Homo sapiens: one gene and its partners. The protein of the gene in region 3 interacts with the protein of the main gene of each other region in a pairwise test. Each region holds a gene or a part of one and is shown on either strand. Other genes may lie near its edges.

The links.
Region 1: the proteins of GSTCD (region 3) and TNS4 interact in a two-hybrid assay, tested with the Homo sapiens proteins (one large-scale study listed by BioGRID and IntAct).
Region 2: the proteins of GSTCD (region 3) and CLNK interact in a two-hybrid assay, tested with the Homo sapiens proteins (one large-scale study listed by BioGRID and IntAct).

Annotation. Positions count from the first base shown.
Region 1 is NC_000017.11:40,481,124-40,484,623, forward strand, and holds part of TNS4 (tensin-4 precursor), read right to left. Parts: intron 3,487-3,500; coding exon 3,361-3,486; intron 1,294-3,360; coding exon 1,201-1,293; intron 1,084-1,200; coding exon 1,006-1,083; coding exon of another isoform or gene 974-1,005; intron 1-973. UniProt on the Homo sapiens protein: Promotes EGF-induced cell migration by displacing tensin TNS3 from the cytoplasmic tail of integrin ITGB1 which results in dissociation of TNS3 from focal adhesions, disassembly of actin stress fibers and initiation of cell migration.
Region 2 is NC_000004.12:10,510,269-10,513,768, forward strand, and holds part of CLNK (cytokine-dependent hematopoietic cell linker), read right to left. Parts: intron 3,330-3,500; coding exon 3,196-3,329; intron 1-3,195. UniProt on the Homo sapiens protein: An adapter protein which plays a role in the regulation of immunoreceptor signaling, including PLC-gamma-mediated B-cell antigen receptor (BCR) signaling and FC-epsilon R1-mediated mast cell degranulation.
Region 3 is NC_000004.12:105,725,784-105,729,283, reverse strand, and holds part of GSTCD (glutathione S-transferase C-terminal domain-containing protein), read right to left. Parts: intron 2,706-3,500; coding exon 2,454-2,705; intron 1-2,453.

The sequences.
Region 1 (3,500 bases), on a different chromosome or scaffold from region 3:
CTCTGGGGCTCCCTTGCCTTGATGCCCTTCCAGAAACAGCCCTTCTCGAGCTTCTCCTGCACACCCCTGAGATGATCTATTTCATCTGAGCTGCCCCCCTACCTGGCTGTATGCTCTGGATAGGGCATGCTGATCTGGGTTCAAGGTCTGACTCTGTGGGCCTTTGGGCAAATTACGTAACATCTAGAACCCTCGTTTTCTTTTCCTTCCTTTCCTTCCTTCTTTCTCTCTTTCTCTCTTTCTTTCTTTCTTAGATGAAGTCTTGCTCTGTCGCTCTGTCACCCAGGCTAGAGTGCAGTGGTGCGATCTTAGCTCACTGCAACCTCTGCCTCCCCGGCTCAAGTGATTCTCCTGCCTCAGCCTCCTGAGTAGCTGGGATTACAGGCGCCCACCACCACGCCCAGCTAAATTTTTGTATTTTTAGTAGAGACGGGGTTTCACCATGTTGGCCAGGCTGGTTTCGAACTCCTGACCTCAAGTGATCTGCCCGCCTTGGCCTCCCGAAGTGCTGGGATTACAGGCGTGAGTCACCACGCCCAGCCCTTATTTTCTTATCTGTGAAATGGGGATGATAACAGCAAAGTCTACTTCACAAGCTTGTAGTGAAGCATGAATGGGTGAGTGAGTGCTCAACAAATGCTGGACCTGGAAAGAGAAAACCTCTCCAAACTATTTGATTTAGGCTCTTTCACCCTCTCAAAGCAGGCTGCTATTTATCCAACATCCATTCTATGCCAGGCATTGCGCTAAGAGCCTTGCCCGGGCTATCTCTTTCGGTCTGCACAGCAATCCTATAAGTAGGTATGATGAGGAAACTGAGGCTCAGAGAGGTCAACATTCTCAAATTTTCACAGCTAGGAGGTGGAGATGTTGAGCGACTCCAGTGCACACAGTTTTAACCGTGACACTAAAATAATCCACCAACAAGGTAGGAGTGAACCCCATTTCTAATGAGAACAAACAGGTCCCCCACCTTGGCATTGCCTCTTTGGGGCCCAGACCCACCTCTCTGTGGGATGGTGAGTTTGCAGGGCAGGGCCAGGGCCATGATGGAATGCTGGCACACGAAGGCAGAGAGGCTCCCTGAAAGGAAGCAAGCAGCCCTGCATGAGTAGAGCTTCCCCAACCCACCCCTCAGCTCACAACGGAGACTTCGCTGGCCCCCCATCCCGGGGGAGCCTGGAGGCTGGGGAGTCTCACCAAAGTAGGGCTCCTCATCTGCTCCTTTGAGATGCACTCCTTTGGCAGACGACTCGATGAGGAAGTGTCGGATGAGGTCATTGCTGTCCTCACCTGGACAGAGAAGAAAGAGTGCATTCGGATAGAATTCCACCTTGTGGCCGGGCGCGGTGGCTCACGCCTGTAATCCCAGCACTTTGGGAGGCCGAGGTGGGCAGATCACTTGAGGTCAGGAGTTCGAGATCAGCCTGACCCACATGGTAAAACCCTATCTCTACTAAAGACACACACACACACACACACACACACACACACAGTCACACACACAAAGCCGGGCGTGGTTCACATGCCTGTAGTCCCAGCTACCCGGGAGGCTGAGGCAGGAGAATTGCTTGAACCTGGGAGGCAGAGGTTGCAGTGAGCCGAGATTGTGCTACTGCACTCCAGCCTGGGTGACACAGTGAGACTCTGTCTCACCGGAAAAAAAAAAAATTCCACCTTGTCCATCCCCCTGCCTCTCCCTCCCACAGAGGAGGTGCCAACACATCTGCTCAATGGCTCCAGCCACACCCTCTTCAGGAAACCTTTCTCTTCTTCTTTTTTTGGGGGTGGGGTGGGGAAACCTTTCTGCTGGTCAAGAGTTATCAGGGATTTTTTTTTTTTTTTAGACAGAGTCTTGCTCTGTCTCTTAGACTGGAGTGCAGCGGCATGATCTCGGCTTACTGCAGCCTCAACCTCCTGGGCTTAAGGAATCCTCCCACCTCAGCTTCCTGAGTAGCTGGGACTACAGGCGTGCCCCACCATGTCGGGCTAATTCTTTTGTAGAGACAAGGTCTCACTATTTTGCTCAGGCTGGTCTCGAACTCCTGAGCTCAAGCAGTTCTCCTGCTTCGGCCTAGGGATTATTTTATTTTATTTTTTTTAGACAGGGTCTCATTCTTTGGTCTAGGAAGGAGTGCAGTGGTGTGATCATGGCTCACTGCAGCCTCAAAGACCTCCTGGGTTCAAGTGATTCTGCTGCCTCAGGCTCCCAAGTACCTGGGACTACAGGTGTGCTCCACCACACCTGGGTAATTTTTGTAGCGACAGGGTTTTGCCATATTGCTCAAGCTGGTCTCAGATTCCTGGGCTCAAGTGATCCTCCTGCCTCGGCCTCCCAAAGTGCTGGGATTACTGGCGTGAGCCACTGTGCCTGGCAAGGAAACTTCTTAATTATTTAGATAAATGTCGACTCTTTGGTCTGGTTTCTGTCTCCCCCTGCCCACCAGGTCATCTCTGCTGGAGCCACGCTGGCCCCGGGGGTGGGGAGGTGAACAATGACCTTCTGACTCCTTTCCACCAGTCCACAGTGTCCTCCTCAGTCTGGGCTCATTGCCTCTTGCAAGGCGTCCTTTATAAGTAACACCCTCCCCAGAGGTCACTTTCTTATTGTGACAGTGAGGCATACTGTCAAGAACACAAGGCTGGGTGTTTCATCCTCCCTTTATCACTTAATTGCTCTGGAGTCATTAAGTAACTCTGGGAGCCTCCGTTATCTCATCCGTTAAATAAGAAGGTGCAATCCTGGGGTTTGAGTGAGGCCTATGACCCAGGTACCTTGTACTGTAATCATCTGTTTTCATCTGTCTCCCTAGTGAGGTGGTGTCTGTGTCTGATTCCACTGTATCCCTGCTGCCTCACACAGTGCCTGGTGTGTGGTGATGCTCCATAGATGTTTGCTATCAAATAAGCATGGGAGACCACAGGAAAGCATATAAGCTATCACACACATGTGCGCTGAGCTAGTACACAAACCTGGTAAGCTATCACCTGTGAGATAAGCTAGCTGCGTGTGTAATCACACATTAGGTTCCCTGGAAATGAATCCAGTTTGACTCCAAGAAGAGCAGCCTAGAGGGGGCTAGGACCCTCCTCCTTCTCTCCCACCATCAGAAAAAAGCAGGGAAGTGGGGGTGGGGCTCGGGAAGGCAGAAGCACGCAGGCTTGCTGTGAAAGGCGTTTTTCAGGGTGCCTTGGGGCTGGAGGGCATCGGGGAGAACACTGGGGTGGACGCTTCTCCTAGGAGCTGTTATAAGACTGGCGCCATGTCACCCTGAAAGCTAGTGCCAGAGCCAGGACTGGAACCTACCACACCCCGCTGCCTCAGTGAGGCCTTGAGTGAGCACAGAGACAGACGCATACCTGGTCGACTCTGAGCAGACGCGGGAACCTCCTGCACCTTCAGGGCCAGGCCGAAGGAGCCTCGGTATGAAGAGCTGTCCCTTATGACAAAAGCCCCTGGCTCCTCCTTCCTCAGCAGCTCGATTGCTGGAACAATCCTT
Region 2 (3,500 bases), about 95 Mb from region 3:
CCCCTGAATAATTCAAAAGGAATGTTTCATTTTGGCCAAATATGTCGTTAATATCTCTCTGCCATTTCTAATCTCTTCTTTAACAGAAGAAGAGCAGTCCTTATGCTGACAGCCATTAGCAGGTGATGGGATCCTGCTACAATTTAATAGCGTGTTTTGTTTGCGTTGCAATGACTTTTTAAAAAAATTAGGGAAAAATATTGTAAATCAAAAATAAAATTCTAAGGTCCCCCAACCATCTGAATGGACTTCCTCCTCTGCCAGGGCACTGTTAACATTTAACCTGAAAGACTAGTTTGGGTCATGATGGGAAGTAGGGGTCAGACACGCCTCATAGCTCTTCGGCACTAACATCTATCCAGACCTTAAGTCTGAGAAGAAGCATTTACAATCTATTCTCTCTGAAGCCTGCTACCTGAAGGCTTCATCTGTACAATGAGAACTTTGGTCTCCACAAGGCCTTATCTTCACCGATAATAAGCCCTCTATCTATCAGTGATATTCCCTTTCTATTGATCCCAGGTCTTTAGATAAACTCAACCTATTGCTAAAATTTACCTATAACCTGGAAGGCCCCACTTCAAGCTGTCCCACCTTTCTGGACTGAAACAATGTATTTGTTAAATGTAATCCCAACACTTTGGGAGGCCAAGGCAGGTGGATCACCTGAGGTCAGGAGTTCAAGATCAGCCTGGCCAACGTGGTGAAACCCCGTCTGTACTGAAAATACAAAATTAGCCGTGAGTGGTGGCAACATGCCTGTAATCCCAGATACTTGGGAGGCTGAGGCAGGAGAATCACTTGAAGCCGGGAGGTGGGGCGGGGGTTGCAGTGAACTGAGATTGCCCCATGGCACTCCAGCCTGGGCAAAAAGAGCGGAAACTCTGTCTCAAAAAAAATTAAAAAAAAAAAAAGCATATTTGATTGAAGTCTCCTATCTCCCTAAAAAGTATAAAACCAAGCTGCACCCTGACCCCCTTGGGCACATGTTCTCAGGATCTCTGGAGAGCTGTGTCACGGGCCATGGTCACTCATATTTGGCTCAGAATAAATCTCTTCAAATATTTTCCAGAATTTGACTCTTTTCGGCAATAATATAATAAGATTTACCATTTTAACCATTTTTAGGTGTATAATTCAGTGGCATTAAGTACATTCACATTGCTTTACAGCCATTTCCGCTATCCATCTCCAAGTTTCTAATGACTCCAAACTGAAACTCTGTATCCATTAAAGAATAACTCTCCATTACCTCCACCTCCTTCCTCAGGGCCCAGTTACCACCATCCTACCTTCCGTCTCTATGAATTTGCCTATTCTAGGTACCTTGTATTCCTGGAATCATATATTTGTCCTCCATGTCTGACTTATTTCACTCAGCATAATGTTTTCAAGGTTCTTGTATATTGTATCACGTTAGAATTTTATTCCTTTTTAGAGCTGTAAACTGTTTCATTGTGTGTGTGTGTATACCATTCTGTTTATCCATTCATCTGTCAATGGACATATAGGTTATTTCCGTCTTTTGTCTATTGTAAATAATGTTATGAACATGGGTGTACAAATATCTGAGTCTCTGCTTTCAATTCTTTTGGGCATAGACTAAGGAATGGAATACTTCTAAAGTCACTTTCTACAATATATAATACTAGTTAAAAAAATTAACCAGAGTAGTGATATAAAGTGAAAACAGGTCACCTTAAAGAATATTATTAACTAAATGTTATTATTGACAGGACATAGATATGCCACAAATCATAAAGGTATACTCAAATAGCTGAAATCAGGGAAATCCTGATGTGGTCCAAGCCTGTCTCATGCCTATGAGGAATCTGGGATCTGGGAGGGAGCGTAATCTTGTGTGGACCTCTAGTTAGAACCAAGTGATCCCCATGTTTACGAAGAAGATGAAAGAGCAAAAGGAAGCCGAGTGCATGACAAGGGACAATAAAAGAAGGATATGCATTTTTTTTTTTTTTTGTGATGAAGTCTAGCTCTGTTGCCCAGGCTGGAGTGCAGTAGTGAGATCTTGGCTCACTGCAACCTCCATCTCCCAGGTTCAAGCGATTCTTCTGCCTCAGCCTCCCAAGTAGCTGGGATTACAGGCATGTGCCACCACGCCTGGCTAATTTTTTTATTTTTGGTAGAGATAGAGTTTCTCCATGTTGGTCAAGCTGGTCTCGAACTCCTGACCTCAGGTGACCTACCCACCTTGGCCTCCCAAAGTGCTGAGATTACAGGCATGAGCCACCGTGCCTGGCCAGGATGTGAAAATATTTTCCAAAGTCTAATTTAAGATTATGAGACCCTTTTAGAATTAGGTAGAAATTAATATGAATATAAGGATAACAAAAGAGCTTTAGGATACTGTAGGAATTCACCAGAGATATTCTATACATTTGCTTCTGCTTAGAAATCTTCACGAACTCTGTAGCAGGACAGTGAGTAATAGCAGGATATGGGATGGAGACCTGGAAGAGGCACATCCTCTGGGGCTTTACAGTGAAAGACTTTAGTAAGTAACATCCAATGTGATGGAGAGAAAGCATACAAGATACAGTGAAACTTTATCCCCCCCACCATAGGGTAATGTAAGTAAAAAATGGTCCAAAAATAACCAATTGTAGTGAATGAGCATATTTTAGAAAGAGACCACAAAATAGATGACAGACACACAAGAACACAGTTAGTATCCATTTGCATCTCCCCACTCTTTACATCTCCATTAGGGTGGGGATCATAACCTCTAGCACATTGTCTGGCACATAATAACTGCTCAACTAATGGTCGCTGGACTGTTCAACTGAAATGAGTGTGTAATACATGGATCTTTTGCTGGAAAAAAATTGCAACCTGTATATCCTAGTTAACCCCCCACAAGATTATTGGACAGCTGGTAAATATAAAACACGTGTCTAAATATCTGTATTTTTTGGATTAATTTTTAAAAAAACACTTTAGAATCTGGAAACATGCCAGTCAAAGAATCTGGTGAGAGACCAATGTAATATGTTATATAGCAACATATTTAAAAATATTAAAATACTTTAAAAATATTAAAACCCAGTAACATATAGCCAGAAGGGAAAAAGTTAAAGTCAAACATAAATAATCTCCTTTTGGGCATTGTTCAGGAAAGCTCTATTTAGATGCCAAGTACATCTAGAAGGACTTGGCAGAGAAGTGTCTGCTTACCTTTCTATCAGACCTTTTGGGGAAAGGTGGTCTCCAGCTTGTGTATTTATAGGGCAGTATATTTTCGTGAGGGCTGCAGCTGGCTGGAGGCTGGCATCTCTGAGGAGAACAGGGCTGCATGCCTCCTCTATGATCTGGAAAGGTTAAATTCACATTTCAGTGTGATTTTGTGACTGGTGCAGTCTGTCCCCCACCTCCAGAAAGGAGCTGAAACCCTTTGCTCCTTCCTATATCTGTGAGGACCTTCTTGGTCAACACCATATCAGCTCACTCAGTGACCTTAATTCTCTCTGTTTTGTTCTCTA
Region 3 (3,500 bases):
CTATTCCCCAAAATACATATTTTAATTAAATAAAAATACCATGTGTTGAGTATTTTGACATCACAATTACTTTCCTATTTTTTAATATTGTGATAATAAAAAGTAATGCTATTTTAAAATTATTACTAGAAAATCCATAGAAGCAATAAGCTACCTAGAAATATATTGGATATCAAAGAGAAAGTTCAGCTGAGGATGAAAATGTTATCAAAAACAATCCACATAGAAATAATAAAAAAAGAACTCTGCATATGTCCATCAAAGTCTCCCTTTACATATATGAAAATCGCCACAGCCTAAAAGCTACCACTTTAACACATACCCCAAAATACCACTCATACTAGTCTTTTATAAGTGCCTTTAATGTCACTAGAGAAAAATTCCTCTGGTGTAACCAAATGGTTCCCAATATTTTCAAGAATTAGGACCACTTTTCAATATATTAAAACATTTTCAGGATCCTTCTCCATCTTAGAAGCTGTACATTTGTTTATTTGATCTACGTACAGTGGCATGGCATACACATGGATTCACAGACCCCTTCCAATCACATTCCAGGTACACAGTCTATATCTATATCTATATCTATATCTATATCTATATATCTATATCTAGATATCTCCATGGCTCTGTTATTTTTATCTTTAGGAATAACCTATTCAAATAAAAATCTGTGAGACTCTAGCATCGAATGCTTTGTATCAGTTTATGAGATTACTTTCCATTATAAAAACTAGCTGAATTTGTGTCCCGAAGGAAATAGTACAAATAATCTTTCATTAGGGCTAGAGATATGGCTATTGATCTACAAGCCCAGAGCACTGATTTGCCTCCAGAAAGACAAACACATCTCTCTGACATCATCTACCTCTCTTCTATCTTCTTCAGTCTAGCCACACTGACCTTCTTGCTATTTCTCATTTCACTAAACTCATTCTTACTTTAGGGTCTTTTTAAAAAACACAACTATATTGAGATAAAATATATATATTAATACCATATAATTTATCCTTTTAAAGTATCCAATTCAGTGGTTTTTATAATATTCACAATTGTTCAATCATTGCCACTATCTATTTTAAGATATTTTCATCATTTCCAAAAGTAGTTGCATATTCACTCGAGAGGTGAACCAGAGGTCCCTTGGCAGTGTAGTAATATAATCAAGACACATCAAAATCTAGACATGCCTCAATAACTTCTAAAATCAACTATATAATCATGTTTCATTGCTTAATCAATAGGCCACAGAGCTTAGCTGAAGAGTTAAGGGATTGGTATCCTTACCAAAGTCTTCCTGTCCATTTCTAAATCAGTAAACTCTGTTAGCTACCGAACTCAAATACTTCCTAACCCAAATAGGGAAATATAATGAATATTTTTCCAGTGTAACTCGATGGATAACTTACTTCATGAATTCTCTATTCAAATAAATCCTCACATCACCTATTAAAAGCAAAATATTTTTGCAGATCATTTCAAATGTTAGGGAAAGGAAAGCCCATTGTTGAAAACTTTGCAATTAGTACTACTGAAAACAAACTATGCCCCAAGGAGAAAAAAAATAAAGCATATGCATTCTTTTTTTTTTTTGAAACAGGGTTTCACTCTGTCACCCAGGCTTTTATGTAACAAAAACATTAAAATCAAAGATTAAAGTAAAAATAAAATTCAAAGAATTCCAAAATTACAAATTTAAACAAAACCTTGGAATGTAAATTGAGATATTAATCTTTATATTTCTTTTTTTTTTTTTTCCGAGACAGAGTCTCACTTTGTTGCCCAAGCTGGAGTACAGCGGTACAATCTCGGCCCACTGAAACCTCCGCCCTCCGAAGTTCAAGCTATTCTGGTGCCTTAGCCTCCTGAATAGCTGGGACCACAGGCACGTGCCACCACACCCAGCTAATTTTTGTAATTTTAGTAGAGATGGGGTTTTGCCATGTTGCCCAGACTGGTCTCGAACTCCTGACCTCAAGTGATCCACCTGCCTCAGTCTCTCAAAGTGCTGGGATCACAGGTGTAAGCTACTACACCCAGCCTTATCTTTATATTTAACTTGCAATCATTATCCAAACTAAAAAAGGCTGAGACCAAAACTTTACAACAGAAAAAGATTATGTTAAAATAGTATACTTGACCAGGTATGATGCTACCTTGGTCAATATCCTGAATATACAAAAAAAAAAAAAAAAGTTTTGAGAAAAGGGCTTTTTAAAAGTATATATTGTGACTTACTTGGCTCCAAAAATACATAATACTAAAAGTTTTCAATTTAGTATACTTCACATAAATGAAAAGAGTAGCAGAAATATTAACTGGTAAAGAGTGAAGAAAGCTACAAATAAAATTTATAACAAAAATAATGTCAACAAATGATTACAAGTTGGAGTAGAATGCTCAGCAATATTATCACATAGAATTTTTCAAAGAAAATGTTAATAATTAAGTACCATTAACTTGGCCATGGTTGGTCTTGGTCCTCCTATAAATAAAGGATCGCTTTGCTCTTCTACACCTGGGACTTCACATAAGTTTGGATGCTGTTCAGTTGAGGTTGTCAACAACTTTGGTAAATGGAGAAATTGGATCCCACACTTAGAAGCTGCTGTTTTTACTCCTGGCACTTCCTGAATCCTCTGGTACCAAGAGGCTAGCAATGGAAATTCTACCAGCTTCTCAGAAAATTTCCTGCTGATAATTACCTAGGTAGGAAAATAATAAAACACATTATTATATATATTTTGTTTATAATAGCTGTGTTGAGGTAACTTTACAAACCACAACATTCACACATTTAAGTGTATAGTTCAAACAATGAGTTGTAGTAAATGTATCCAGTTATCAACCATCTAGTTTTAGAACACTTACGTCACCCCCGAAATTTCCCTTGTAACCATTTACACTCAATCTCTGCTACCACAGTCAGTTGCAGACAACCACTGATCGGCTTTCTGTGTTTACAATTTTGCCTTTTCTAGAATTTCATACAAATGGAATCATAAAATGTGGTTTTCTTCTATCACTTAGTATTATGCTTTTGAAGTTAATCCATATAGTTACATTGACCAATCGTTTGTTTCTTTTTATTATGACTAGTAGTCATTGTGTGGATATACTATATTTTGCTTACTCATTCACTGGTTGATAGATATTTGCATGTTTCCAGTTGTTGGTTATTATAAATAATGTTGCTATACATTATAATGTAGCAGTGTTTATGTGGCACTGTGTTTCATTTCTTTGAAAATCCAAGAGTCAAATTGCTAGGTTTTATGGTAACTGTATATTTAACTTTTAAAGAAATTAAAATCTTCTCCATGGTTGCCCTTCCATTTTACAATTCCCACTAGCAATCCATGGAGGTTCCAGTATCTCCTCACAACTTGTCAAACCTTGGTATTATCAGTCTGTTTGATTTTAGTCATTCTTGTGGGTATATAGTAGTGTCTCATTGTAATTTTAATTTGCATTTCCCTATGATTAATGATGTTGAGCAA